Linked DNA regions of Homo sapiens: regions 2, 3, 4, 5, 6 and 7 are each linked to region 1. The links come from fine-mapping of genetic effects on gene expression. A gene starts in region 1. Each other region holds a variant in brackets. All regions are shown on one strand. Distances are from middle to middle. Region 1 holds the start of CLYBL (citramalyl-CoA lyase). Region 2 overlaps CLYBL (citramalyl-CoA lyase). Region 3 overlaps CLYBL (citramalyl-CoA lyase). Region 4 overlaps CLYBL (citramalyl-CoA lyase). Region 5 overlaps CLYBL (citramalyl-CoA lyase). Region 6 overlaps CLYBL (citramalyl-CoA lyase). Region 7 overlaps CLYBL (citramalyl-CoA lyase).

Region 1 (4,067 bases):
AGAGATAAGAGAGTAGACTTTTTTGAGAGAACAATAGCCAAAAACTTCCCAAATTTGATGTATACACATCCAAGAAACTCAATAAACTTCCAAGAGGATAAACTCAAACAGATCTACACACATCATAATAAAACCACCGAAAGACCAAGACAAAGAGAAAATCAAGCAAAAAAAAAAAAAAAAAAAAAAAAAAAAAGACTCATCACTTACATAGAACCCTAATAACATTAACGTCTGAATTCTCATTAGAATAATGGAGGCAAAAAGACAGTGCGATAATACGCTTTAAAATGCTCAAAGGAAAAAAAATGCCAATCAAGAATCCTATATTCAGCGGGTAGACATGTCGAGAACAGACCAGTGTGCTAAGGCGGGTGAGGAGCACTGAGTTAACCCCCAGCGTACTGGCGTGGGGACTGTGTGCGCTCACTGGACCCGCTACTGAACAGGTCACAGACGCTGGCCCCCTCAAAAGGCGCCAGAAAAGGACCCTTCTGGACCAGCCTGGATACACTGCCTGAGCTGCTCCTCTAGGGCGAGGGGTGACTCCCCTGTGCCAGGGGCAGCGGAGGAAATGGGAAAGTGGGATGCATAAGACTAGGTGGGTCCTCCCATAGGACATGGGTGACTGAAGAGTCACAGTGCAAGAAGACGTAAGAAGTTCAGACCCAGGCCGGGCACGGTGGCTCACGCCTTTAATCCCAACACTTTGGGAGGCCGAGGCAGGTGGATCACCCGAGGTCAGGAGCTCCAGACCAGCCTGGCCAACATGGTGAAACCTCGTCTCTATTAAAAATACAAAAATTAGCCGGGCATGGTGGCGGACGCCCTGTAATCCCAACTACTCCGGAGGCTGCGGCAGGAGAATCACTTGAATCCGGGAGGCGGAGGTTGCAGTCAGCTGAGATGGCGCCATTGCACTCCAGCCTGGGCGACAAAAGCGAAACTCCATCTCGGAAAAAAAAAAAAAAAAAAAAAAAAAGAAGTTCCAGACCACCAGGCCGGCCATGGTGGCTCACGCCTGTAATCCCAGCACTTTGGGAGGCTGATCCGGGTGGACCCCCTTGAGGTCAGGAGTTCGAGAACAGCCTGGCCAACATGGCGAAACTCTGTCTCTACTAAAAATACAAAAATTAGCCAGGGGTGGTGGTGCACACCTGTAATGCCAGCCACTCAGGAGGCTGAGGCATGAGAATCGCTTGAACCCAGGAGGTGGAGGTTGCAGTAAGCCGAGATTACACCACTGTACTACAGCCTAGGTGACAGACCGAGACTCTGTCTCAAAAAATAAAAATAAATAAATAAAGAAGTTCCAGACCAGGAGCCATACACTTAGTGTTTGAACCAAACTCTCTCATTACTGGTCATAGGGCTTTGAGAATCCTTAACCTTTCTGACCCTGTTTTTTCATCTTTATAAACATGACACCCAACTTCTTCACATGGTGGTCAAGGGAACCAAATGAGACCATGTATGTGCACGTACCTAGGCGATGGGCAAGTGCTAGACCAGCGGTTCTCAAAGTGTGGTCCAAAGACACCTGAGGGGGTCCCTGAGACCCGTTGAGAGGGTCTGCTTGGTCCTCCCTTTCCCAACTAATATCTGCATCTGCATGAGCCCAGAATTTCTTTCAAATATTTCCTTCAAAACAGCTGATATGAGACTCCAGCTGTCCTTTATTAAACCAAAGAAATTTTCAAAAATATAAAAACCATGAGCCAATCTTCTCACTTTTTTTTTGAGAAGTTATGCATTAAAGTGTTATTTGTATTAAAAGTTAATGGGTTTGTTATTAAGTGAATATTTTTTAAATTTCTGGTTTAATTCCTCATGCACAAAAATCAATAGATATAAGCAAAAGCTTTGGGGGGTCCTCAAATTATTTTTAGACGTGTAAACGGGTCCTGAGACCAAACCGTTTGGGAACCGCTGTGTTAAACGAACCGCAGGTGTTCTTCACCAGGCAAGCCGCCTCTCAAAGACTGGCGCGTTCACGTTTGCCATTTGGGGGAGGCAGGCAGTTTTGTTTCCTGGGGCTGAGTCCAGGTAATTCGACCTAAGGTGTGTACCCATTTTCCGGGTGCAACGAGGGCCCTCCCAAAGGGAGGCGCGGGCGGCAGCGACCTTGGACGAGGTCGAGCCAGCGCGTGGGAGGCGCATGGTGCTTCCGTCCGGCTGGGTTCCCGTGAGGGCTTGGGGAGGCCGCGCCCGGCCCGCGGGGCTGCAACAGGAGCCGACCCGCGGCGAGCCGGGCCGGGAAGGCGGGGAACGGGGACCTGCACTCACAGCCTCAGCAGCGCCGCCGCCGCAGCTCCGCGCGCCGCCCTCCGCAGCAGACGTAGCGCCATCTTCCCGACGCGCGCGCCCCGCCCTTTGCCTTTAGCCACGCCCACCCCACATTCCACGCCCCCACGGCGACACCGACCCCCCCCCCGTCCCAGGCCCCGCCTCGCTCTGTCTTCGCCCCGCCCCGTCCCGCCAGCCACACCCCGCCAGCCACGCCCTCCTTCCTCCCAGCACCCGCTCCGCCCCGCGGCGAGTCCCGAGGTCAACTGCCCTCCCGGCCAGGGCTTAGGACCTTCGTCCCCGCTGTCATGGGGGACAGAGCAGAGGATCTGAATGGTTGGGGCCTCTTTGAGGGGCCTCTCTGGTGACCGAATCCAACTCTCTGAGCTTCTGAGTTTTTGAGGCAACTGTTGACAGACTGCGTTTTCCCAGCCAGAAGAGCCAACATTTCTAGGGATTTCTTCGCAGCTTTTGTTGTTAAAATACCGCCTAATACTTTGTGAGCCCCATCATGTGCATATCTTGGTTAGCAATTAATCTAGAGTGGTCAAAGTGCAGGAAGGCTGCATCCTGGAACACACATGCCTGCAATAGGTCAGAGCAGCTGTTGGCACTCTCTGGGCAGGGAAACTGACAGCAGCTCTTTACTCTGCCCCCTGCAGCCGTTCTGCAGCGGTGAGAACGCCGAGGCGTTAAAACAGGCTGGGCCCTGCCCCTGCCTCTTCTTTCACCTTCCCTGATCCAGCCGGCCTCCACCTGCCGACCTTCACCTACCCGGGCCCATGTTACCCCTTAACCATGTCTTTTCCTTGGCACTCGGCATGTTTCTTTTTCAGCTGTGACTCCGTTCCATTCATGCTCTAGACTTAAACCTGAAACCGTTTCTCAGAACCTTCCAGTGGAAGCTGACTTGTGCTCTTGGATGCAAAAAGTGGCCGTTTAAACAAACAAAAGCCTTTTCAGCCAGAGGGGGTTCCAAGATTTGGAAAAGTCCAGGTGACTGGGAACATGGATGCTAAACTTCTGCTGAGCCTAAGAATTATTGTTATATTCGATACCAACAGGGGAGACTGCTCAACCCCTTGGTGCCCTCCCCCAGCTCCCACGCCTGCTCCACCTCAGGCCTCGCCTGTCTACTCCAATTTGGTCACTTTCTTGTCACCACCTTAGTCCCAGCCAGTGCCCGGTCCAGCCATACTGAAGCCTGAGGCAAAGGCAATTTCAGTAACACCAATCCTGTCTTTAATTAAAATTTTGATATTTTGTTCATAATGGGATTTTTCCATTATCTTGGTTTTTAGTTTAGAATATTACTTTTTTTTTTTTTTTGAGACAGTCTTGCTCTGTCGCCCAGGCTGTAGTGCAGTGGCACGATCTCAGCTCACACACTGTAACCTCCACCTCCTAGGCTTGAGTGATTCTCACCCCTCAGCCTCCTGAGTAGCTGGGACTACAGGCAAGTGCCACCACTTCCAACTAATTGTTTTGTATTTTTAGTAGAGATAGGGTTTCACCATGTTGGCTAGGCTGGTCTCGAACTCGTGGCCTCAAGTGATCCATCCGCGTCAGCCTCCCAAAGTGCTGGGCTTACAGGCATGAGCCACCATGCCAGGCCAATATTACTTATCTTTTTTTTTTTTTTTTTTTCTGAGATGGAGTCTCGCTCTGTCGCCCAGGCTGGAGTGCAGTAATTACTGAGACTTCTCCTTAAATTTTGCATCCCAGGCTGGGGCTGCACTCACCTCACTCAAGTCTGATTCTGGACATCATCATCCTTTACC
Region 2 (4,067 bases), 290 kb before region 1:
ACACTGCCTGACTCTGACTGGAGTTCCCTTCACCATTTCAATAAAACATGACTGTATTGATATAATCCTCTATACATTAAAATGAGGTTGTCACAGATTGTCATTAAGACCTCAGTAAAACAATGAAGACATTATTGGGCACCCCCCCCCCCCCCCGCCTCAGGCAAGGTATTAGGGGAATAAAGCAATCTACACCACACGGGTCCTATTGAGATTAATGAAAAAATTATGCAAAAAAAAAAAATCTCAATTTCATTTTCCCGTGACGGGGCTTTGCATACATACAGTCAGTCTTGCCTTGCACCTGATGATTTATTAAACTAATCTACAGTGATCACCACTGATGTTCCCAACTCAGTCTTGTCCCGGCTCATTTTCTAAGTAATTGTTTCTCATTAGTTCTGATAATGTTTTAATAGTGTTACCCATAATTTAGACCCCAAGAATTAATAACGGGGGTGATATGGCTAAGCGGCTTGTGATGAGCTACACAAAACATAAACAGGTATGGTTTCTAATGAATCAGATTAGCTGCAAGGTCCTCTTCCTGTCACCCACGCCTGGCTCAGGAGTCGGGCAGCTCTCACTTCCCCGTGTCGGGGGTGCCCAGTGAGCCCAGTGGAGATCACACACCCACCCTTGACTGCTCTCCCACCTTTCCCAGGGTACCTGGGCCCACCCATGGCACCACAGAGACGCGGGTGGGGAAAGAGGGGGAATACCCTTTGCCTTCCAGCATCTTCTTCCTAGAGTTTTGTTCTTCAAGGACTAAGGCACCATGGGTTTCTGATCAGGACTGAACTCTCTTCTGGGACCCTCGTCGTTTGGGTCTCTGTTCAGGGAATGGGACTTTGGTCCAGATTTGTGGCTCTCATAGGTCTTAGTCTCATGATCCTACCCTAATAGGGACCATGGGTTATGAGGAAGATAATGAACTGGACATTTGGGGAGACTGAAACAAGGTGGTTTTGTTTGAACAAAGCAGTTTGGGATGAGGGCAGTGGCGTGGCGAGCAGTCCAATGTGGTTGGGACCTAGGAACCCGTGGCCTGGGAGTGGCCAGCAGCGGGAGGCCTAGCCGGTCCGGCCTCCGCACCACCCAGGGGCCTTGCGGAGGGGCCTGCTTTTCCCCAGGTCTGTAGGGCTCCTTGGCTGGGGACAGGAGGCTCCCAGTGAGGCCTTGAGGAGGCCCCTCTGTGTGGGGCTGGCTGGCTGGCTGCCTGTGGGGCTGGGGTGGAGACTAGAACGCAAGCCCTTCATCCCCTCAAGCCAAGGGCTTCTTTGGATTAGGCTGGAGGATGGGAAGGTTAGTTAGATTGGGGTGAGGGCTGCCCATAGGAAGGACAAGGTGAGGTTTATTTTCTTCTTTTGCTTAGGGCCAGCTCTGCCTCCACTGCTTCTAACACCCTCAGCGGGTGCGTATGGCAGGGGCAGAGTGAGAGAGGCCTTCTTTTGCCTTCCCACTGCCAAGCCATCCTCCCATCCCTCTGTGTTCTGAGCAGAGGGGCAGACTGGGGGTGCACAGCGTGGTCCTGGGTTACCTGGTGTGCACCTGACTCCAGGAGTCCCATCCTTGGTGGGTCCTAGCTGCAACAATGGGTGCTCCTCTGGGAACTGCTGCTGCTGCCCCGTCTGGGGTCTGGAAGCAGTGTGGCTAGAGGCCATTCGGCTCTGAAGTTGGCGAGATGCCATCTTCCTCCTTCCGGCCTCTGAGTGAGGATGGGGCTAGCTCCCACCTTCCTTTCTGGCCGCTCTGGGGCAGCCCAGCGTGGCCAGTGTGGAGGGTGGCACTCCTCTATGAGGGACCCCACGGAGCATGTGCCATCTCCATTTAGGAGC[T/C]ATCTGTCTCCTGGATCCTGTGTTTGAGAAATGAGTTGGTGTCTTCACAGAATGAGGATCCCCAGAGCCATCTTGCCCGGTGCTGGCTCCCCGCATGTCTGTCCCTCTCTGGGTGGGGGTCGCCTGGTGGCGGTGGGACTCTGCGGCCGCGCTTTTGTGTGATGGTGCCTCTCCTGGTGTCTAACCTCAGCTCCTCACCTCTCGGGCTTCCTGTGGGAATTGAGAGAAGTGGGGAAAAGGGGAGGCCTGGTTGGGGCTCATGCTAGGGGCCGCAGAGGAAATAATCCAAAAGGGCGTAGGAGGAGGTGAAAAATGAAAGTAAAAAACAACTGTTTTCTATTTACAAATTTAAATAAACAGAACAGCCTTCCCCGCGGTGTTTGTCTAAGAGTAGCAGCGTTGCTGCTGTGTAGGTCATGAAAAGGTTGGTGTAGAGTTTAAAACTTCCCATTCTGTTAATTTCTTAAGGAACAGTCGTCCAGAGTCTCGGCACAAAAGCTCATGATTTAATGAGGAACAGAAACAAAATCTCTGATTGTTGGTGTTTCAAACTTCATTGGCGTCCTCTGGCAAGCACAAGTTGATCCCTCTGCAGCTTCAATACCCTTTAGCCTTCAATATAAGAGTACATGCTGAATAGGGAACAATGGCTGGTTGTTATGTTTATTTACCCTTACTACAAGCTGGGTTAACCTCTTCAAAACAGCTTTACTAAGCCCGTTAACCACACCACCCATCTGACCTGCAGCCGCATCTCTAATGTGATGCAAATCTCGCAGGGGCCACATGCACCAGCTCGGGTGCATTGTGTCTTCTGAGACGCTACAAGTTTATGACTGAGGGAGTCCTGTCCCAGCCATACATTTCCAGGGGGAAATAGCCTCAATGGCAAACAGTTAAACGGGAAAATAAAGGGGGAGAATGGATGGTCTTGTGTTTCTGCACATTTATTTTTTAATTGCCGGTAATGGTTGACTCACAGCATTCACCCAGGATGACAGCTTTCGTGTTCATCGTCTAGCGGTTCAAGGAGATGGATGTTTCGTTTTAGGGGTGGAGGTTAATAGTAACCAGTTTCGAAAGTTTATTTTCAGAAAGTGTCTTTTTAAGCCAATATAATACTTAGTATTCTTTTTTGATGCCATCTCTGTTGTTTTATCAGATTACTAGTGAAATAGAGATGACCCCTTAATGTTGCTACTATGTTTTAAAGGCCTGGCTTTTCTTAAAATTATTTGTGGTGTCAGCTGTATAAATGAACAAGCAGGAAACATTTACTAACATGAGAAGGGTGGAGGGAATATGTCTATTTGGGAAAGATCCATTTCATTAAAGACCTACCTTCGCCTCACAGCCCATCTTTCCCCAGGATCTTACCTCCCTGTGAAATCATAAGCCCATATTCGTAATACACTAAAAATGATAAAATCATAAGCTTGGATCCAAAGGGAAAAGCGTTCATTTTTTTAGGGGAATAACTGGCCAGTGAGACAACAACAACAAAATTGTGATTAACATGAACTGTAAATGGAGTCAGGTCCCAATCTGGCATCCTAACAAGTTGCTTTGAGTATTGTGGTTTGTCTTTAAGAACCCCACTGTATATGTTCAGCCCACCTGATGACAGCTTCATTTAACAGATCATTTTTCCTTGATGGAGGTGGCAAGCGTAACAGTGTTCTGGGCCTGCTTCAGTAATGGCATGTCGATCATACTCCCTTGGAAAGTAAAGGCCCCCTGGAAAACAGAGAATACAAACTTCCTGAAAGAATACTCGAAATTATAGGTTTCCTTTCTGTGCACACTTGTGCAACAAGAACATTTTAGATTCCACCTGAATTATACTGACTTTCCCGCCCAACTTTTGAGAAAGCCAAAGTAAATTACAGAGGAAACACTTCTTTTTTCCCCCTAAAGAGGGGAAAAAAATAAAAATCTTCAGCATTTTAATGGAGAGGAGAAACACATTGGACACAAGACAGCAAACTGTTCAGTTAACTCTTGAAATCAAGCAGAAAACAGCTGTGGAAGGAAAATCTAAATACTTCCCTATATATTTTTGAAATATTATGTAGAACTTTAAAAGCAAGAATATATTCTGGCAACTGATTATTGTTTTAAAAAATTGTACCATCAGGCTAATGGCAAAATCTTACCTCCTTGCTGTAACATAATTGAGAGGTAACATGATAAGGTTATGAGAAAATGCAAGGTAGGATTGTACAGGGT
Region 3 (4,067 bases), 220 kb before region 1:
ATGCATTAATTCATTCACTCATTTTTAGTTTGTACTTTCCCATAAGTTGGGAAAAATGGGTTTACTACTTTCCACACCATTATGTAGCTATGGCAGCAATTCAAAGATTCTAATGTAATATAACATTTAGGGCTTATTTAATCCTTCTTTCCTTTAAGAATAAGAATTGGTGGAATAAAAATATAAACTACTGGCCGGGCACAGTGGCTCATGCCTGTAATCCCAGCACTTTGGAAGGCTGAGGTAGCTGGATCATGAAGTCAAGAGATCGAGACCATCCTGGCCAACATGGTGAAACCCCGTCTCTACTAAAAATACAAAAAATTAGCCAGGTGTGGTGGCAGGTGCCTGTAATCCCAGCTACTTGGGAGGCTGAGGCAGGAGAATCGCTTGAACCTGGGAGGTGGAGGTTGCAGTGAGCTAAGATCGTGCCATTGTACTCCAGCCTGGGCAAAAAGAGCGAAACTCCATCTCAAAAAAAAAAAAAAAAAAAAAAAAAAAATATATATATATATATATATATATGTATGTATGTATGTATATACTACTTAATGAAATGATATATGACAATACTTCAAAATCTCTTAAACTGTACCATTAACATATAATGGTTATATAATGAATTCTTTTGGGTTTTTTTCTTTTATTTTTTCTTTTCTTCCTTCTCTCCCCTCCTTTTCTTTCTTTTTTTTCCCTTTAACAGATTTGATATAACATATCCCAAATTCAATTTGCCTCCACTGGTGGTCCTATGGATCCATTACTGATGTTTTCCTCCCACTCTGTGACACCAATGGATAATATGAAAGCCAAGTTCCTAATTCTAACTGTGACAAGTGGTAAATGGCCAGCTTGCCCAGTCCACTTAAGGGATGAGTTCTTGAACTCCCTTGAATGATAACTTCAGGACTAGAGAATTATGTCCAACAATAAAAGTCCTTTTCAGGGTGTTTCTCAGTTTTTACATAAATTTAAATATGCTGGTTCAACCCCACACCCAGTCTAAGTTGCCTAGATACTCACCCCATCAGATCTTATCACTATCCAATGACATGCCCTGTCTATACGTTGGCTTCTTCTACCTGGGTACCAGGTTGTAAGTATTTAATACATGTTGTTGAATTGAATTCAATAAGAAGAAAAAGAAGTAGAGGGAAGGTAACAATGAGGTCTAAAGTGGGTTCTTTTAAGAGATCATTTGAGGACGTGGAGGGAGAAACAAGTGGTACGACCCAGTGGTCTCGCACCATGGAAATGCAAAGCTGCCAGGAAGAACCGAGACCACTACAGGATAATTGTTTTCAGTGTTTCCCTAATGGGAGTCAACCATCAAAGCAAAGTTTCTCAGATGCTGGAACTGGATTGTGAAAAGCAAATAAGAACACAATGTGCTGTTAAAAATCATTCCCTTGGAAATAAATACATCCAATATTGCCGCAAACACTGTAAGCTATTCATCCTCGACTGGAAGCTAGTAAATTCATTAACATCATATTCTAACATTGAAATGAAGACTGTGTTGGAAAACAGTTATCAAAAGATCTATTGAGACAGAGCTCTGAGAAGAGGCCAAGAAATTCTGGCCAAAAGACCAGATAGTGAACTGTTTGATAAATGTATAATAAAACAGCAGAATTGTATTGATACTATTGCTCTATGAAGCTAAAAATACCCTAAACCAGACAGGTTGATTGAGTGTGGATCTGGTACAGAAACAAAGTTACCAAAACAAGGCCAGGGATGGAGGGATATCAAAATGGGGCCCCTTTTTTTCTGGTAGCGTGTGTTTCCTTCTACAAAAAAAAAAAAAAGAAAGAAAATGGTGGTTCACTCAAGAAGCGGGTATTTACAGACAGCTATTACACGGGCAAAAAAAAATGCTTACTTCAAAAGATCTAATATTATTCTTCAATAATATTGTTAATGTGTTTTAAGATAGAGTTATTTTATTTATTTATTTATTTGTTCATTTTTTAAATTTTATTTTAAGTTCCGGGATATATGTGCAGGTTTGTTGCATAGGTAAACATGTGCCAAGGTGGTTTGCCGCACCTATCAACCCATCACCTAGGTA[T/C]TAGGCCCAGCATGCATTAGCTATTTATCCTGATGCTCTCCCTCCACCTGCCTCCCTGAGAGTTCTTTTATTCTTATTATTAGTAAGAACAACCATGATGTTAATTAGGAAAAGAGACCTTGCAGCTCCTGATTAATGGTATCAATGATAATATATCTGAGGTGTATTAGTTTCTTAGGGCCACCATAACAAATGACCATAAAATTGGCAGCTTAAAACAACAAAAATGTATTCTTTCATAGTTCTGGAGCCCAGAAATGTGGACTTGAGGTGTGTGCAGGGCGCAGTCCCTCTCTAGCGGATCCTCCTTGCCTCCTGCAGCTCCTGCTGGCTGCTGGCAGTCCCTGCAGCTGCCGCCACCCAACCCCTGCCTCTTCCTTCATGTGCCCTTCTCCTCTGTGTCTGTCTTCTCCTCTGTGTCTGACTTCTCTTCTGTGTCTGACTTCTCTTCTGTGTCTGTCTTCTCCTCTGTGTGTCTCTGATTTCTCTTAAAAAGACACTTGTCATTGGATTTTGGGCCCACCCAGATAATCCATGATGGTCTTTTCTCGAGATCCTTAACTTCATCGGCAAAGACCATTTTTCCAAATAAGGTCACATTCACAGGTCCCAGGGATTAGGACATGGACTTATCTTTTCAATGCAATCCACGACTGGAAGCATATTCCATGAACAATGGAATGAACACTTCTTTAAAAGAGTTATTAGAAAGCAGTATGTTAACAAAGGTGAGTTCTCCCTTTTCCATCTCTCCCTCTCCTCTCTACATCCCTTAAGAGGAACAGTGCCTGGACTATTTGAGGTCTTTGGTAAGATCTCTAGGGGTGTCACTGTGTCCTAGGACACAGAGCTAGGGACTGTCACAGACTCACAGAGTAGTTGAGTTGGACAGAACTTAGAGGTAACTTGGGGCAACCCTAATCTCACATATGACTCCTCTCTGCAACATTCCTGGGCTGAGGGGCACCCACACTGCTCCAGTGTCTCCAAGTCCATCTTTATGTCCTTGGCTGGCTCTAGGTGCCACTTTCTATACCGCAGTGGTGCCTGGAACCACGCTCAGCCTCCTCATCTTTATGTGCGTCAGTGCCTGTCCTTCCCGTTGTGTTGTTCATCTCTACCAGGAGGGCACTGATCTAAACCACTGTCCTTAGGATGTGTGCATAGAGTAATTCTTTTCATCAAGAATGCTGGCTCTTCCACTTAGGCCTAATAAATATCTTTCATCATGCAGAAAATGCATTTTTAGATGACTGGCTGAGTTTCAGAATCACAGAATTTTAGGGCTGAAGAAAGCTCTACAATTATCTAGTCATTTTAGAAACAAGGAGACAAAAGTCCGAGAGAGAGATCAACAAATGACTGAAGGTCACTCTGATGCCGGGGGGAGAGCCAGGACTTGAACGCACATCCCCTGAAGCCCATCCGAGAGCTTGTTCACTACATCACATATGATTCAGAATGTGACCCAAAGCTTGCTCCGGTGTGAATTACGCTTGACATGCTGGCCCCCTTGGTGCCACCCCGTGAGACCATCAACCCAATGATCATATTCAACAATATTTCCTGAGTGTGTGCTATGGGCAGACAGGCTCTCCGCTCTCACGGAGCTTATACACTCAAGCGAGTAAATGATTAAACAGTACCTGAAAGGCTGCAAGGCTCTAATCAGCTGTCACATTTCGGAGTTGATTGGGACTGAGGTCAGCTTGTTCAGCTCCTGATCCTTCACTGTACCCTTAGAGGAAAGGTGACGTAACTGGAGCTAATGTCCCTACTTTAAAGGTTCCTAGAAGTGTCCAATGTCATCATTTGAGTCAAAAGCACCTATTGGTCTAGAAAATAATTCTCCTCACTTCCTTTCTAGTGCTCAATTCTAAGATAAACCAGAAACCCAAGATCAGTAATGACAACAACAACAACAACCCTGCTTTTATTAAAACTCATCATTGCCCATAAAATAAAGTAGATCTCTTGGGAAGAGTAAAGCCAC
Region 4 (4,067 bases), 43 kb before region 1:
TGGTCTCAAACTCCTGACCTCATGATCCACCCACCTCTCCCTCCCAAAGTGTTGGGATTACAGGCGTGAGCCACTGCACCTGGCCACAACCAAGAATCTTAACTGATGGAAAGCCACAACCCAGAATTCCATTTCACTCAAAAAATATTTATTCAATTCTTTTTTGAGACGGGGTCTCGCTGTGTCACCCAGGCTGGAGTGCAGTGGTGTGATCTTGGCTCACTACAACCTCCGTCTCCTGGGTTCAAGCGATTCTCCCACCTCAGCCTCCCAAGTAGCTGGGATTACAGGCATGCGCCACTACGCCCAGCTAATTTTTGTATTTTTAGCAGAGATGGGGTTTAGCCATGTTGGCCAGTCTAGTCTAGAACTCCTGACGTCAGGCCACTCGCCTTGGCTTCCCCAAGTGCTGGGATTACAGGCGTGAGCCACCTCACCTGGCCTATTTATTCAGTTCTTGTCATGTGCTTGGCACCAAGACAGATGCTGGGCCTGCAATCAGGTACCAGCAGTAGCGCTATGACCTAGGTGGTTGGATCTAACATGGGAGACAGCACAGGGTACAAAGAGCAGAGATCACATTGGGCAAAGCTACTGGAAGGCAGAGGAAGGGTGTCTGCTGGCCCACGGCAGTGTGGGTGACTGCTAAGTCATCAGAAGAGAAGATATTTGGTCAGCAAGATCTCAAGGAAGATGAGAGGAGGGCTCTGTAGGGAGAAGCAGCAGCATGAGCCATGGCAGAGACAGAAAGGAGCTGGAGTATCTCACCACCCTGAGAATTTTAATGTGATTGGAAGGTCAGAGACATGGGGTAGGAAGATGATTCTGGGAAGGTAATCTTGGGTTAGGGTGTAAAGAACACTGTAAGGTCTTCATTCCTCAGTGTTGAGAGTGACTGCTGCTTGTGGAGAGGAGCGCAATGACGTCTGTGTTCAGAAAGCTACTTCTGGAAGATGGACAGGAGAGAGGAGAGTCCCAGAAAAAAAGAGCCACAATGGCTGGGAGCCATGTGGAGATGCACAGAATCCAAGGGTCTAGTGGAGGCAAGAATGACTCCAAGGATTTCAGCTACAGGACGAGGAAAGGTGGTGCTAGAGTCCATGGAGGCAGCCTCCAGCACCCTCCAGCAGCCTCTGTGCTGACCTTACTCTCTAGAAGAGCACATGTACCTGAGCCAAATCAAAACTCAAGTTGCTGCCAGTGAGAATTTGGCAACAGTTTCTGTCACCCTGGGCAAGGAGAGGAAAGTAGATGGGCAACTGAGGTTTCTAACACTCTTCTTATTTCTTCCCCTCTTGAAAACTTCTTTTTTTGAGACAGGGTCTCATTCTGTCACCCAGGCTGGAGTACGGTGGGACAACCATAGTTCACCGTAGCCTTAAACTCCTGGGCTCAAGCAATCCTCCTGCCTTAGCCTTCCCAGTAGCTGGGACTACAGGTGTGCGCCACCATACCACTCTGATTTTTTTTTTGAGACGGAGTCTGGCTCTGTCGCCCAGGCTGGAGTGCAGTGGCGCAATCTCTGCTCACTGCAAGCTCCACCTCCTGGGTTCACGCCATTCTCCTGCCTCAGCCTCCCGAGTAGCTGGGACTATAGGCGCCCGCCACCACGCCCAGCTAATTTTTTGTATTTTTAGTAGAGATGGGGTTTCACCGTGTTAGCCA[T/G]GATGGTCTCTATCTCCTGACCTCGTGATCCGCCCGCCTCGGCCTCCCAAAGTGCTGGGATTACAGGTGTGAGCCACTGCGCTTGGCCTACCAGTCTGATTTTTAAAAAATTTTTTGTAGGGATGAGGTCTTGCTATATTGCTCAGGCTGAAAACTTTCTTTTTTTTTCATGAAGCATCATATAACTTTTTTTTTTTTCTTTTGAGACAAAGTGTTGCTCTGTTGCCCAGGCTGGAGTGCAGTGGCACATGATCACTGTTTACTGCAGACTCCAACTTCTGGGCTCAAGTGATCCTCCCATCTCAGCCTCCTGAGTAGCTGGGACTACAGGTGCCCACCACTACATGTGGCTAATTTTTGTATCATTTGTAGAGATGGGGTTTCGCTCTGTTGCCCAGGTTGGTCTCATGCTCCCGGCTCAAGCAGTCTGCGTGATTTGGCCTCCCAAAGTGCTGGGATTACAGGCGTGAGCCACAGCGCCTGGTGGACTCATAGAACATTTAACACATAAGTCCTCCATCAATATTCCAAATTTTCCCCACCCTTCAACTTATCGGCAAATAAGTAAGATTTTTCAAAGAAACAATGACATTGCAAAGGTACACCTACTTAACTGTGTAACTGTTTAGCTTTTCTATCTTCATGACATAATTTTTAGAGGTGCTTCTATTCCTCACAGAACTGCACCTGCACCAGTATATGAAAAATGGGTGCCAATTAGTAGTATTTTAGTTAAAACCGTTTCCCCACATCATTGTCTTATGCTAGAAGCGAGCTGGCATGAATAACAAAGGGTTGCTATTAATAGTACAACACAGAATGCAAGCGGAAAACTTGAGTGAAATTATGTTTTTTAAAACCCACTGTTTAGTGCCCAGAAAAGGGACAGACTGTGCAGCATCTGTGCTGGGGGGAGATGGAACTAATAAATCATTGCCATTTTTACTATGCACAGGCAGAATCTGATGTACATCCAAAGCCAAACACATTGGCTGTCCGAGAAAAATGATTTACGTTCCAGGGCTTTTTTTCACTCAATTGAAAGTTTATGCATTTAGCATCCTAGATGATTTTATTAATTTACATCTCCTGTAATTATTAAGTTTTTTAAGAAAATTTTGGGGATGGGTTAAATGTATGAATGAAATATAAAAATATATATATCCTTATGTTCAAACATAAAATATTCATTTCAAAGTCCAACTTGCAGATGTAAAGCCATGTAAAACATAAGACTGAGCTAGAAAAAAATGATACCTTGATGTGTAGATAAAAAAAATACTAGTGACACTAGGTAGCTAACATTCTATTATCAGTTCAAGAAAGGAGTAAGAAAAGTACATTTTCTTATTGAATTAATTTGACCAGAATCAAAGCAAGTGTAGAAAAGACCCTAAACACTGATAACAGTGCAATATCCATCTTCAATAAATAACAAGCTTATGATGATTTCTTATGCTGTTAGCACATCTGGCTGCCCTATCTACTCTGGAACACAGAAATGTAAGAAAAAGGGGCCTTTAAATAGTAACGCAGGCAGCTCCACTAATCAGATTATCATCATAAGGTATTGACAGCAAGAAAAGTCACAAAAAACCAGGGCTAGCAGGAATGCTGTTTCAGAATTCAACGAACAATGGACTATTTATTTCGGCATTCCATAATCATTTTGCTTACACACTCTTGTTAGAAAACTGGTAAAATTCAGAAAAGCAGACCTGGAAGGACTGATGAACATTCGGAGCCTTCTGAATAGTCCATGGCGTTGAGATTTTTGTCCGAGGACTTGAAAAGTTAAAGGCATAGTCCTGCCAATTGTGAGATGCCCTCTCCAACACAGACCACCCACAACTACGGATTTTCCATCTGGTGAACAAAACAGACAGCTCCCTAATTATTTTTAAAAAGGATTTTTCCCCCCCGAACATACTTTCTTTATTTGTCTGTGACCTGGAACTTAATGGAAAACCTGGTGCATGCCAACTTCATTTCTCATAATGAAATATCCTATTTTATTGTTTTAACTGGTTTTAAAGACTTTAAGATAGAAATTATTACCCCCAGAGCCAACACACCAAGCCACCAAGACAATTCCAATGAACTGTTTCCTCTGAACAGAGAATATCTTGTTTAAATATTAGCCACTGAAGTTTTCTCTCACAACCAACAAGATGAAAATAGGAGGGAAATTATTTGCAATCGTTCTCAACTGGGCACCCATACTGCTAGTGTCAAAATCTATGGCTTTTCCAACAAGATGGCCACCTCTGCCAAAAGCATGCTCAGAAATGCCAACTGTAATTAAAATCTGGCACCTGTCTTGGGCACCAAATTTGCTTCTAATATCTCCAGTTGAAATGTGTCTCAGCTTCGAGAGGACTTAAGATGCTTCTTGCCCTCTG
Region 5 (4,067 bases), 28 kb before region 1:
CAGTGATAACACTGATTGATACACCTCCAGAGATGGGTTTTCATGGAGAATTTTCAACACAGGGAGAGGAGGGGCTTAATAATTGGGAATTCTTCCACTCAACCTTAGCACTTTCATCTTTGGGTGAGCACAATGGCAAACTGGGTAGCCTCTATTACCCTGGCACTTACAAAGATAAAGTTTAAATTAGGTTGGACACAGTGGCTCATGCCTGTAACCCCAGCACTTTGGGAGGCGGGCAGATCACTTGAGACCAGGGGTTCAAGACCAGCCTGGCCAACATGGCGAAATCCCGTCTCTACTAAAAATAAAAAAATTAGCCAGGCATGGTTGCACATGACTGTAGTCCCAGCTACTCAGGAAGCTGAGAAATGAGAATTGCTTGAGCCTGGCTGGGGGATGCAGTGATGCAGTGAGCCAAGACTGCACCACTGCACTCCGACCTGGGCGAGAGAGTAAGTCTAAAAAAAAAAGTTTAAATTAGACCGCAACCACACTCAGGACCTGTCTTGCTAATACTCCATCTTGCCACTGTGACTATAATGGAGTGAAGGCATGGAGAGAATCCAGAACCACTAATTTTTCCTACTTACCCCTCGTAGAACCATCATTTTATCTGTACCCTACCCAAGAAAAGAAGATCCAAGGCATACTGTGCACAACAAAGTTAATAATATCTGCTACTACACATGAAATGTCTTACTTTAAACCTTGCCTCTTAAAATCAGAGATCTCTCTCTAAAAGGAGGGGGCCAGGAATGTAGTGGCTGATACTCAAACAGCCCTGGCAAGAGGAATGGCTCAACAGTGGGGAGCAGGTGTCCCAGCTGCCAGGGAGCAGATCCCACTGTCCAAGCAGAGTTGGCCACGTGAACCTGTGCAGAAGGCACTGGAGGCCCTGCCCAGCCCAGATGTGCTGGCACTGCATCAGCTGAAGACAGGCTCACCAGGTCCCACCTCTGTTTTCAAGCATCAGGAGCTAACAGGTGACCTTTCTATATTGACCACTCAATATTTTCTTACCAGGACTTTAAGACCTTGGTAAACATTAATAATTCTATTTATGCATACATTTAATGATCTGCAGCAAGGGTGAGCAATGAAGGTTCACATAACTGCGGTAAAGTGTTTGTAAAGGTGCAGGTGGCATTTTGCTTGGGGAGATAAAATTGTTATTTCGAAAACATAATTTTAAGAGTCTCTGCTGAAAATATATATAAAGCTTTGAATTTCACATTACGTGAAATTCCACAATTAAAGTTAATATAATCACTCTTTTAACTTAGCAAATGTACTCTGTTAAAATTCAAACTCATTAAAAGTTGAATTCTACAAACATTAAGCACTGCTGGTCTCAAAGAATGTATAGTCTAATGGGAGAGAAAAACATTTAATCAAGTAAATGTTTAATCAACACAATGTTTAAAAAAGTGTTGTAAGAATAAAGCTATAATAGGAACCACACCAAGCACTTTATATATATTATCTTTAGTCCATCTGTCTCAGCAAAGTAAGCAGTAGTATTGTCACCATAAAGATGAGGAAACTGAGACTGGGGAGATTAAACAACTTGCCTGAGCTCATACAGCCAGTAAATGGAAAGACCAGAATTGAGACCAAATCTGTCCAACTCCAAACCCTGTCCTCTTCCCCCAGTCTTCATGGTCTCTCCAAGAGTAGGACAGAGCATTAACAAGAGTTATGGGAGGCCGGGACAGGACCACTCAGTTCAGCATGCTAGGGAATAGGTAAGGCTTCTAGGACATAGGACACAGCATCTCTGGAGGTGAGAATGATTTGCTATGTGAAGACAAGGAAGGAACACAGGAAAAAGCAATAAGCTGCGCAAAGCCAGGAGGGCTGAACATGTGGAAGGGGAGGCTGAATGGCCAGACCTGACCTCACTGGGAGATGAGGGTGGACCCTCACATGTGGAAAACAAGGTTGGACCTGGGTAGGGGCCAGGCTAGGAAGGCCTGGGCTAAAGACAGGACCTCACTCTGCAAACACTGGAGAAGTCTCAATTTGATCCTGGAAAAGGTTGGGGGTGTGGGGGGCGTGGTGC[A/G]GATTATAAAAATCATGACAGAGAAAGGCGGCAGATTTGAGAAGGATTTGGGTCAATTGACCTTGTTAATGACCCCCAGGTACATTTCATTACGAAGACCTAATGAAACGTACCTGGGGTCATTAACAAGGTGAGTTAAAAGGCGGACTCTCAGGCTGCTGGCTTGGGTGACAGAGCACACGATGGTGTCCTGATCACCCGAGATGGGAACCCAGGAGCAGAACCAGCCCTGGCACCCTCTGCAGCTGCCTGCCTTGGAGTAAGATTAAGCCAGACAGTGTGTGGGAACAGGAGTGTTCAGGAGGCCATTTTAGAGCAAGATGTGCCTTCCTGGAGCTGCCGCTCCGGGAATGAGCAGGGACGTCTGGGGATGGGGAAGAAGACCTAGCAATGGAAAGAAGGTGCCCAAGGCCAGAGAGCGCGATCTGATACCTCCTTCACAGCCTTTGTCACGTGACACAGTGTCCTGCTAACAGAGTAGGAAAGAAACCCAATCCTGACTCCCAGTCTACAATGTCTCGATTTCTGTCATATTCCTTACAAGGGAGAAACAGAACATTATTTTCTCATCTTGTATCAAGTATCTCTATTTTTCCTAGCTATTTCATGACATTTAAAAATTTATTTAAAAAAATAAGTAATACATCCACATTAAAAAATATTCAAATGATCAAAAGAAGCACAAAATAATAATTTAGTCTCCTTTTTCATACTCCAAGCTCTCAATCTCTTCCCCTTTTCCACGGGGAAGGTTATCACTGTTAAAGTTTTCTTGCGTGTCCTTCCTGAAATAATTGCTATATAAATATTTATTATTATTACTATTACATGTTTACATCAACACAGATGGATCTATCTGATTATTTTCTTCATCATTTCTGGTTCATTTCTTTTTATAGATCCAAGTTATCATCTGGGGTTATTTCCCTTAAGCCTAAAGAAATTCCTTTAGCATTTCTCATAGTCAGATTCTTTGCAACAAATTCTCTCAGTTTTTGTTTAATTATAAAGGTCTTTATTTGGGCTTCAATTTTGAAGGATAGTTTTGCTGGACGTAGAACCCTGGGTTGATATTTTGTCTTTCAATACGTTTACCTTCTACTCTCCACTGTTTCTGATAAGCAGTCGGCTGTTAGTTATATTATTGTTCCTTCTGTGCACCTTCTTTTTTTCTCAGGCAGCTTTCAGGACTTTCTTATTTTTGGATTTCAGCAATGTGGCTCTCATGTGCATGTGTGTGTTTTAATTTATCTTGCTGAGTGTTTGTTAAGGGATCAGTGAGTTAATGGATTTCACCGAATTTGGAACATTTCTGGTCATTATCCCCTCAAATATTTTTTCTGCCCTAATCTCTTTTTTGCTTCTGGAACTCCAACTATACATGTTAGACTGCTTGGTACTGTCCCACAGGTCTCTGAGGCTCTATTTGCTTTTCTTCAATCTTTTTCTTTTCCTCAAACTGAGTACATACGATTGATCTATTTTTCAGTTAACTTTGTCTGCTATTGAGCTTACTGGTAAAAATTTCTATTTAGTTCATGTATTTTCACCTCTCTTTTCATAAAATTCACAATTTTCACCATTTTAAAGTTTAAAATTCACAGTGCTGTACAAGCCTCACCACTAGCTCAAGAACACTTTCATCAACACAAAAGGAAACCCCATATGCATTAAACAATCACTTCCCATTCCCTCCTCCCCTCAACCTCTGGCAACCACTAACCTTTCAGCTCTTTTTCATAGCTATTTTTTTTTTTTTTTTTGAGACAGAGTCCTGCACTGTCACCCAGGCTGGAGTACAGTGGTGCCATCTTGGCTCACTGCAACCTCCACCTCCCAGGCTCAAGCGATTTTTGTGCCTCAGCCTCCCAAGTAGCTGGGATTACAGATGCGTGCCACCATGCCCAGTTTTGTATTTTTAGTAGAGACGGGGTTTTGCCATGTTGCCCAGGCTGGTATCAAACTCCTGACCTCAAGTGATCCGCCCACTTCTGCCTCTCAA
Region 6 (4,067 bases), 50 kb before region 1:
TGTCAAAAAATTCAAGCCTGGCTTTTTGCATATGTAGTGAAACTGAAGGCACTTCCCCAGCAAGTATTGAAATGCACAGATAAGAACACAAAAGGCCTTGAAGTGGTTTGAAGGGTCGCAATTTGCTATTAAACACAGCAGATGGAAACCTGTGAAAGCCCACTTAACGGAACTTTTGAATGCTCCTGTGTGAAATCAAGAGTCATGCACAAGTTAGGGCAATCACTGATTCTACAGTTTTTTAAATTGCACTCTCAGTTTGTTAGAGGAGAAATACACACACACACGCATATATATACATATATATATATACACACACACACACATAGCTTAGAGGATGATTTAGAAGAGGAATACTAATCCCCTCTCTGTCAGAAATTAAAATGCAAGGGTGAATAGCATGCAACTAAGTACCAGCAAAGAGTAAATATTGGTTATGTTTAGGAAAGAGCATAAAAACAGATGTGATATAAAGTTAGACCTTTCACTTCAAAAAATACTAAGCAACTAGTTCTTTGCCCCTGGGGGAAAAATCTCTTTTAATTATGTAAAAAGTGAAGAGACGGTAGTAGGATTCTTTACCTTTGAATACTAAATTAGGAAACAGCAGCATCAAAGGCAGGCTTGATCTGTTTTGCCTGAAAAATTAATAGGCTTTACAAGTCCTTTGCAATGGAGTCTAGGATTGCATAAAAAAAGAGGCTCTGGTGACACCAACAGTCCCAGGAACAAAATGCAGCTGTGGAGGCGGGTTGGGGGTTGGGAGAGGGTTTTTGTTGTTTGGTTTTGGGGGATTTTTTTTACTTTTCTTTAATCAAAATGGATAAACCCGGCTGCCGAAACTCCGCAGAGAACCTGCTCTGCCCGAGGCTTCCTCCCCACCCCACCTCCTTGTTCCTGTCCACACCCCGCCCCGCTGCCTGTGGCCGAGGCCTGTCGCCGGGCTGGAGGGCCTAGCTACCCCAACTCCGCGGTTTCAAAGCGCAGAGAGTTGAAAGGAGGGGAGGCCGGCGTGGGGGAGAGGGACACAGGAGGAAAGGCCTCAGTCAGAGTCCCCGGCAGCCTCGGGGTTTCGCGATGGTTCCCTCCTGGTCCCTCCTGGAAGTGGGAGGCGGACCCTGCGCTTTGCAGCAGAAACTTTCTGGGAGCCTGGAAGACTTGTCACCCAGTCCGCGGTCTCTCCAGCAGTGGGAGGAGCGCTGAAGGTGGTGATTACTATCGACAAACCTAAAATTCTTTCTCTTGAGAGCTCCCACACTATTCACCCCGAGTGGGCCTGCGGATGAAGCTGCTGGTGCCAAAAAGGGTAGGAGGGGGCGCCATGGCAGTCCCCTGCCGGCGGCCCCTTATGAAACCGGGCCGGTTGCTCTGCAGAGCGCACGCAGGCGGCCTTCTGCTCGCACATCGAACTGGCATCCTCGTCTTTTGTCCATGACGTCCCTGTGCCCCACTGCTGCAGCCGAGAGGGACCGCGGCACCAGCGGGCAGGGAGGGCTGGCGCGCCCCGCCAGGTCAATAGCAGGAAACTCCGAAGGCAGGGCGAGGAAGGCACGGGCTTGGGTTCTGC[C/G]CCGGACTGCGAGGAAACATGGAGACTCAGGGCGAGCAGCTCCTAAGGAAGCCGACTTGGCTTCTGTTCCTGGGAAAAGCGGATCAAGAAACTCGCTGAAGACCACTATTTACAGATGAGCCACAGCAGAGCTGCTTAATTCACTCAATAACAAACCTTAATTGCTCAAAACAAAGCAGCTAAGTCTCTTTAGAGTGCTTCAAAGGCCCTTCACATTGTAACTTGCAGTATAAAATGTATGCAATATTTCCAAAAAAGAAAAAAAATTCAGAATCAAGGATAAAGTTAGAACTTTACCTTAATCTTCTTTTAAAGAGTTTTTTTCCCCATCTCCCCCTCTAATTAGGTCAAAATTTAGATGTTATTATGATCTAACTACAATCTGTTTATTTTACTGCCTTTTTAAAAGAAAAGAGACATTTGTGCCTTAATCCTAAAAAGCCCCAAATCTGAATTTAAAAGAATAACATTATTGGACAATTATATGGAAAGTCAAGAAAGATTTTTGAAAGAACTATCAAAAGACAATATTTATATAGAATTCAAGCATTAGCGGTGAGCCTGACACAGCAAAACCATTGTATTTTCCACTAGTTTTGTTTTGCTCTATACAGCTGTGTTTTCACAGATGCAAAGCCATGTGTCTCCACCAAAAGGTTTAGCCCTCCCTTCAGATGTGAATGCGGATCAAAGGTTCAAACGCAGAAATACAAGATCCTTTTCCCTTTGGAACATGTTTTTATTTTTCTGCAGTGGCTGCAAACCAGAATTTCCATCTGTTGTCCTTCTGCAGTATACAGGTTAACCTTAACAGTGGGGCTCGGAGCACTGTTATCTCAGCTAAGAAGTGCACAGATGAAGCACGTCTGCATGTACCATCAGAGCAGCTCCCCAAGATGTCCACGCAGCTAAGACAGAATTGAACCAGGCAGGAGCAGAATCCATTTTAGTTGACATATAGAAATTAATTTTCATTTCTGTGCAACATCAGAACGGATGATGAATTTAAGATGGGGTTTTGCTTTCACACCACATGCACCTTGGTAAAGATAACATCAACCATGATTTCCTGTCTGTCCCTCCTCCTTCCTAGAGCCAGCAGTATGCAATAAGACATTTTGCATTTGAATCTCAGCTTGCTGAAAATTCTCTAACAACAGAAAATGATTTGATAAAACAACTCATTAATTTTAAGTATCTTACAATTTACCAACCCATAATTTTGAATGGAAATTTTAAAAAAATTTGTTACCTATTAATCCTTTTAATAACTCATCCTCTCAATTTCCATTTCTTTATCAAACATACCCTCAGAGTGACTGAGAGAGAAACAGGTTTCTCTATTACCTACTCTAAACATGGATTTACTGCCATGTAAACATTGGCTTAGGAGAACAGTAAAAATGCGGCAATGCAGCTAACAAGGTGGGAGGCTTTGAAGGTATTTCTGCCAGGTTTTTAAGGTCACTAAATGTTAAGAGAAAAATGAACTAGAGAGGAACATATATATATACCTATCTGTAGACGATCAAGAGAGGTTAGAGGGACAAATGGCGGGATGACAGATACAAAGCTTTGGCTAGTTCATGGGGAGATTTTACAGAAGCCCAAAGTGGAAAGTGCCGTGGACCCGACTGAACACCAATGTGTGAGTGCCATCTAGTGGTCTGCCTAGAACTGCACCCTGGTCTACTCCCTGACAAACACGCCACCCTAAGGTCTGGGGGTTCTCCACCCCATTTCTCCACCGCATCCTGGCTCATTCTATCACTCCCAACCCTTCTATCCGATTACTGTACCTTTTCTGCTCTAATTACAAATAAACTAAAAAGCCAAAAAGCCTCAGAAAACAAAGCAGGAAGAGTGATAATCTCAAAGGTGGGGGTGGGTCTGGAAAAAAGGAAAGTGGCCTCACAGGTCTCCCCGCGAGACTGTCACAGAGCTGTGCAGGAAGGCTTAAAAGGGCTGGCTCCAAGACAATAAGGAATCGTCTTGACCGCACCTGCGAACCAGACTAAATGAAAAGTGCGCCCTGCCGCCTACACATGCCCTCTCTGTCCTCAGTATGTTAACCTTTCTGGGGGGAAATAATTAACTCGATGACTGGGCAATGGTTCACTCATCAATATCTCTTCCTAGGTGCTCTGTAAAGAGTCAAGTCCAATGTGACGTAGGTGGAGCTAGTGTTCATGATGTCAGGCCATCCCTGCCATCTGACTCACGGGCACCCAGACAGGGCCACGTCATCAGCTGACACCAGGTCCCACAAGCAAGGCCCACACAGCTTCCCAGGCTTCAAATACTTGCTCTGATTGTCAGCTTCATGGCAGATCAAGCCACCAATGTGTTATTTAGTGGGATGAAAGAGGACGCCACCCCAGGCTCTGCCAAGCACACCCCCTAGTAGCGCCCCTCCAGCCACCAAGGTGGCAACACAGCCTGGGAGAAAGGCCAGAGCCCACTGACTTGCATTTCTGTCCCAGCAACTAGAGGTTGCTGA
Region 7 (4,067 bases), 260 kb before region 1:
TGCCCTGTCCAAACTGAAGTTCTGAGCCAAATGCTTCAGCTTCAGGGTCTGTCTGGATGGAGAACTTGGGGAGACGGGAGGGCACTTGTTTTGAGAGGGCTGGAAAGCATCGATATGCCTTCTGTAGCCCGCTGAACCGTTGGATACACAAGTCTCCTGGAAAGACTCGTATTCAAATAAATTCAGTTTTTTCACCCTGAGGGGAGGGAAGTGTCCCTGTTTACATTTGGAACATGCCACTCCCTGCCTAGGGAAAGTGCCTGTCTTCAGGTCACTGGGGCTGGTTTCTGTGGCCTCGGCCTCTTTTCTAAATGCTTCACGGTCTCCAGTCAAACATGCAGACCCCTCAAGTGCAGCTCACAAGGGATGGTGAGAATCGGTGAAAATCAGCACATTTAATACTAAGAGTTCGAAACATATTGTAAGAGAAATTTAAGATCCATTTAAAATAATATTTACCTACCGCATATTCTGTAGAAAACAATTCATTAAGGCAAATGTGAAATTGCCTTAAATTTGCGTTAGAAATCTAGACAGCCCACAGACTGATATGAAAACAAAATACTGAAGCAACGGTGAGGCTGTTCACATAATATATTTATTAGGAGCAAAGGAGATGCCATATATTCCTGAGCATGCCTGGGGCTGCAACAGGCTTTCTATTGCTCGTGTCTTTTATAAATGAACAGAAGTAATAATGCAGTGCTCTAGAAGCAGGGCAGCTATGAGGAGCCCTAAATTATCAGGAAGTAGTGTCCATTCCATTGTCATGAAAAACCATTGTCATGGTTGGCAAATATACATTGTTATGTAAATGTCCATCCTTGAGGGGCAAAGAAAAAATATATACACACATATACACACACACACACAGAAAAAGAGAGAGAGAGATGTCTTTGACACCTATGCTGGCTCGAAAGTCTTCTCCTCCAAAAACGACTGCATCTAGAAAGAGACCTACTTGAGGCCCGACCTTCAGGGTTTCTTCACACACTGCCTGTAAAAGAGCAGAACAGAACTAAGTCTCACGGAAACGCGTGCGTCAGAGGGAAGAGGCACGGTGCATTTCAGTAACAGGACGACCTGACTCTTAACACAGTTTGGCTGAAAGCAGTCCTAAAAACGCAGCCCAAATTTACCCCTTTCAAAAGGTATTTAATATCATCCAAGATAAGTATATTGTATATATTTGCTTTGTTTAATGGATTATATGAATATAGTTATAATGTTCAAATTGTAGTTCATCTCATTTTTGGAGAAACTTTGAGTTAACTCATTTTGCTTGCACTATAAGTTATTTATATCTTTCCAGAATTCGTTTTTGCTTTAAGAGACTCTCGTAAAACCACAGGGGAGAAGGAAGGAATTTTAAAATCAAACTAATTGAATTATTTGCATTAGGATCAAGCACATGGTCTCAGGATTAAAGACAGCACAAAAACCTGCAACTCCGGAGGGGAAAATAAAAATGCAACAAGTCATCCAAGATGTGTTCATAAAGCAACTTCGACATTTATATATGAAAGTCAAGGCAAATACCATTCGTCGTAGACATAACCGTGAATCTTGAAAGGTGGAGATATAACCTGCTAATAATATACGTGGGTGGGAAAGAAACGAGGAACCGGTGGGGACACTGTTGATTAATTTCAGACATTGTAAGTGCTTCTAAGTACATTATGGAATAAAATGGCGAAGCAGTGCTTAAAATTAAATCACTGGATGAATCTGGTTGCATCTTAGGGATATGCTTTTGATTATATTCTCAGGATTCTGGGGCTGGCTGGAAGAATGTATGGTTAGTTGTGTAAACAAGCTGCTCACAGGACAAGGTTTGAAGCAGGTCCCCAAACATTTGCACTCGACCCCTTCTGCACATCCCAAGGCCTCAAAGTTGCCGCTCACACATTCTCTCTCCAGTACAGTTCGACTATGTTTTTTCTGTTGTTTTTAGTGATTTCTTTTCTCCTGCCCTCTGTGGGGGCTGGGGTGGGGGAAGGGAATCTAGGAACTCTGAAAGGGGGTGCTAGATTGATGTTCGCAGGTCAGGTGGAATGAGAGGCATATTTTGGAAAATAATATAAATGCCCCCTGATAAACGAGAAAAAACGAGCTAGCTCTGAATTTGTTAAGACCGGTAGTTTAGTGCAACCACACAACGGCTGAAAACACTTGGCTCAGCCAATATTCCCGCATGTATATTAGAAGATATTCTAATGTGGCAAACTGAAAAACTGTACTGCAAATTATTTGTGTGCATGAACTTACAAACAATAATCTTCTCTGCTAGACATTACTGATAATGTTGCTACAGAGAGGGCAGAACATTTCCCACTGAAAAGA[CATTTGATAGAAAAGAA/A]CATTTCAAAGTTAATTCATAAGGGTGACAAATTTTCATGTACATTTAGTCTATAAATGCAATAATTCAAAGCATATAATTACACAGTGATTAGTTAAAATTGTTACTAGGAATATACAAATGCTTCATTTAAATATTTTGGACTGGGAAGCTTTTCCTTCTACCTAACTGATTTCATTGTTTTCTAAGATGCTGGCAACCTGGTTTTTGGACTATTACAGATAACAAATGGTGCTCAACATTTCCTTTGCTTATAAATCTTTCTAGAAACACATTTTAAGAAGATGTTAAAATTGAAAGCAAAAGTTCTCTTTAGGTGATAAATAAAATGCTAACTTATTAACCGTATTATGGCTTCCTTACCTTAAAATTGAGCAAACCCATTGCAGTTTCCACAAAAGGGATTAAATTCATTGGTTGTTCAAGTTTTCGGCCTTTTAAGTGGAATGAAAATTTGTCTGCAAACTAAAATCAGAAGTGTCATAGGTGATTAGTGGGGAAAAAATGTACAATCACGGAAATGTAGACCCAGAAGTAGTATTTAAGTCTTTGACCTGAGGAAGTAATATCCAAGCCTCTTTCGTCCACACAAAAGAATTTTTTTAAAAAAATAAGAAGAAAGTCCAAAGAAAAAGGTAATGAAGTTCCCACCAAACTAAATAGTAAAATCCTAAGCATTACAATTTTTTTCTCCCAAAGGAGCAACTTGAGGCCTAGGAGTTAGAACTGGAAGGAGAGAGTATAAACGCTTTCCCTGAAAACGCATTTACTTAAGACCTCTTGCCCTCGCTTCGTTAAATGCAAATGGTAGGCCCTTAAAACAATGAACTCTTCCTCTACCTGCCATTCTGTTTTTGTTTCGTGCCCAGCACTGACATCAGTGCAACTGTTCAGCAGCCTTCTACGTGGAGTCCATATTATTCATTATAGCACCATTACCCTTTGTTCAGAAGGTTTTTCTTCATAATTTTTTAGCTTACCTAGGAAGACCTTAAAAAGGAAGTTTAATTCTTTGAAGACCAAAGCTCGCCAATTTTTTCCATGAGACCAGTTCACAGCTAGCTCTGTGCTGCCAGTGGGGTAGCCCAAATTCCAAAATCTATCATCTGGAAACATACAAAAGCTCTTGCCCAGATTCCTCCCCCTCTTCAAAAGGGGGAAAAAAACACACTCTAAATTGTAAATCTATTATGTCTATCTAGATCTAATAAGATGTGGGGAGATAGATAGAGAAGAAACACAGGTATGATAAAGGTATTTTTGTAAATAAAGATGAAAACATATATATCCATTTTAAATTTAAGGAATATTCAGCCATTAATAGATATCAAAGGAAAAGGGAATTTTAATCATCTCTCCATTCAGTCTCAGTTGGGTAAATCATATCTAAGAGATTTGCATAAATATAAACCATCAAAGACTTTTCATCTTCAAAGGGGGTTTCAAGACCCTATAAGCTTTGTACTGTAATCATCACAGGTCACCACCCTGCAGGAATAAGGCTGCTATGGCAACATAAAAAAACTAATGCTTAAGGCTTAGCATAATATTCTGACTAATAGAAAGGAAACTCATTTGAAAAGCTGGCAGCCTATTTACCAGAAGCGGGATTAGAGGTGTTATTTCCCCTTCTAGCTGCCCCCTCCTTGCCGGTGCACCACCCCCCTAAAAAATCTAATCACTGGGATCTTTAAAAAGCTTTTGAGCA

Evidence for each region. PIP is the estimated chance that this variant, and not a neighbour inherited with it, causes the effect.
Region 2: its variant is fine-mapped to the expression of CLYBL in whole blood (TOPMed, PIP above 0.99). The same link has a PIP of 0.9 or more in skeletal muscle.
Region 3: its variant is fine-mapped to the expression of CLYBL in monocytes after interferon gamma (Fairfax 2014, PIP 0.95).
Region 4: its variant is fine-mapped to the expression of CLYBL in thyroid (GTEx, PIP above 0.99).
Region 5: its variant is fine-mapped to the expression of CLYBL in whole blood (TOPMed, PIP above 0.99).
Region 6: its variant is fine-mapped to the expression of CLYBL in whole blood (TOPMed, PIP above 0.99).
Region 7: its variant is fine-mapped to the expression of CLYBL in left ventricle (GTEx, PIP above 0.99).

What each region holds. Positions count from the first base shown.
Region 1 is chr13:99,604,977-99,609,043 of GRCh38, reverse strand. It overlaps CLYBL (citramalyl-CoA lyase), which reads right to left and starts at 2,354. Exons shown (of 9, transcript NM_206808.5): 1 at 2,287-2,354. The coding sequence starts at 2,348. It overlaps LOC105370332 (a long non-coding RNA gene), which reads left to right and starts at 3,195. Exons shown (of 3, transcript XR_931674.3): 1 at 3,195-3,282. RefSeq lists a silencer at 2,014-2,573 and enhancers at 2,295-2,589, 2,512-3,491.
Region 2 is chr13:99,890,826-99,894,892 of GRCh38, reverse strand. It overlaps CLYBL (citramalyl-CoA lyase), which reads right to left. Exons shown (of 9, transcript NM_206808.5): 8 at 3,456-3,575; 9 at 2,323-2,450. The coding sequence ends at 3,480. The region is part of intron 1 of CLYBL-AS3 (CLYBL antisense RNA 3); the gene reads left to right. Among named protein-coding and RNA genes, the nearest start is that of CLYBL-AS3, 64 kb to the left of the region's middle. RefSeq lists enhancers at 1,137-1,690, 1,691-2,244, 2,245-2,799. The variant T/C (reference allele first, on the strand shown) is at 1,839.
Region 3 is chr13:99,829,466-99,833,532 of GRCh38, reverse strand. All of the region lies in intron 2 of CLYBL (citramalyl-CoA lyase), which reads right to left. The region is part of intron 1 of CLYBL-AS3 (CLYBL antisense RNA 3); the gene reads left to right. Among named protein-coding and RNA genes, the nearest start is that of CLYBL-AS1, 100 kb to the right of the region's middle. The variant T/C (reference allele first, on the strand shown) is at 2,075.
Region 4 is chr13:99,647,668-99,651,734 of GRCh38, reverse strand. All of the region lies in intron 1 of CLYBL (citramalyl-CoA lyase), which reads right to left. Among named protein-coding and RNA genes, the nearest start is that of MIR4306, 6.6 kb to the right of the region's middle. The variant T/G (reference allele first, on the strand shown) is at 1,666.
Region 5 is chr13:99,633,296-99,637,362 of GRCh38, reverse strand. All of the region lies in intron 1 of CLYBL (citramalyl-CoA lyase), which reads right to left. Among named protein-coding and RNA genes, the nearest start is that of MIR4306, 7.7 kb to the left of the region's middle. The variant A/G (reference allele first, on the strand shown) is at 2,066.
Region 6 is chr13:99,655,462-99,659,528 of GRCh38, reverse strand. The region is part of intron 1 of CLYBL (citramalyl-CoA lyase); the gene reads right to left. Among named protein-coding and RNA genes, the nearest start is that of MIR4306, 14 kb to the right of the region's middle. RefSeq lists enhancers at 1-286, 1,167-1,216, 1,227-1,316, 3,217-4,067. The variant C/G (reference allele first, on the strand shown) is at 1,568.
Region 7 is chr13:99,861,748-99,865,814 of GRCh38, reverse strand. It overlaps CLYBL (citramalyl-CoA lyase), which reads right to left. Exons shown (of 9, transcript NM_206808.5): 4 at 2,723-2,824; 5 at 904-997. The region is part of intron 1 of CLYBL-AS3 (CLYBL antisense RNA 3); the gene reads left to right. Among named protein-coding and RNA genes, the nearest start is that of CLYBL-AS3, 93 kb to the left of the region's middle. The variant CATTTGATAGAAAAGAA/A (reference allele first, on the strand shown) is at 2,344.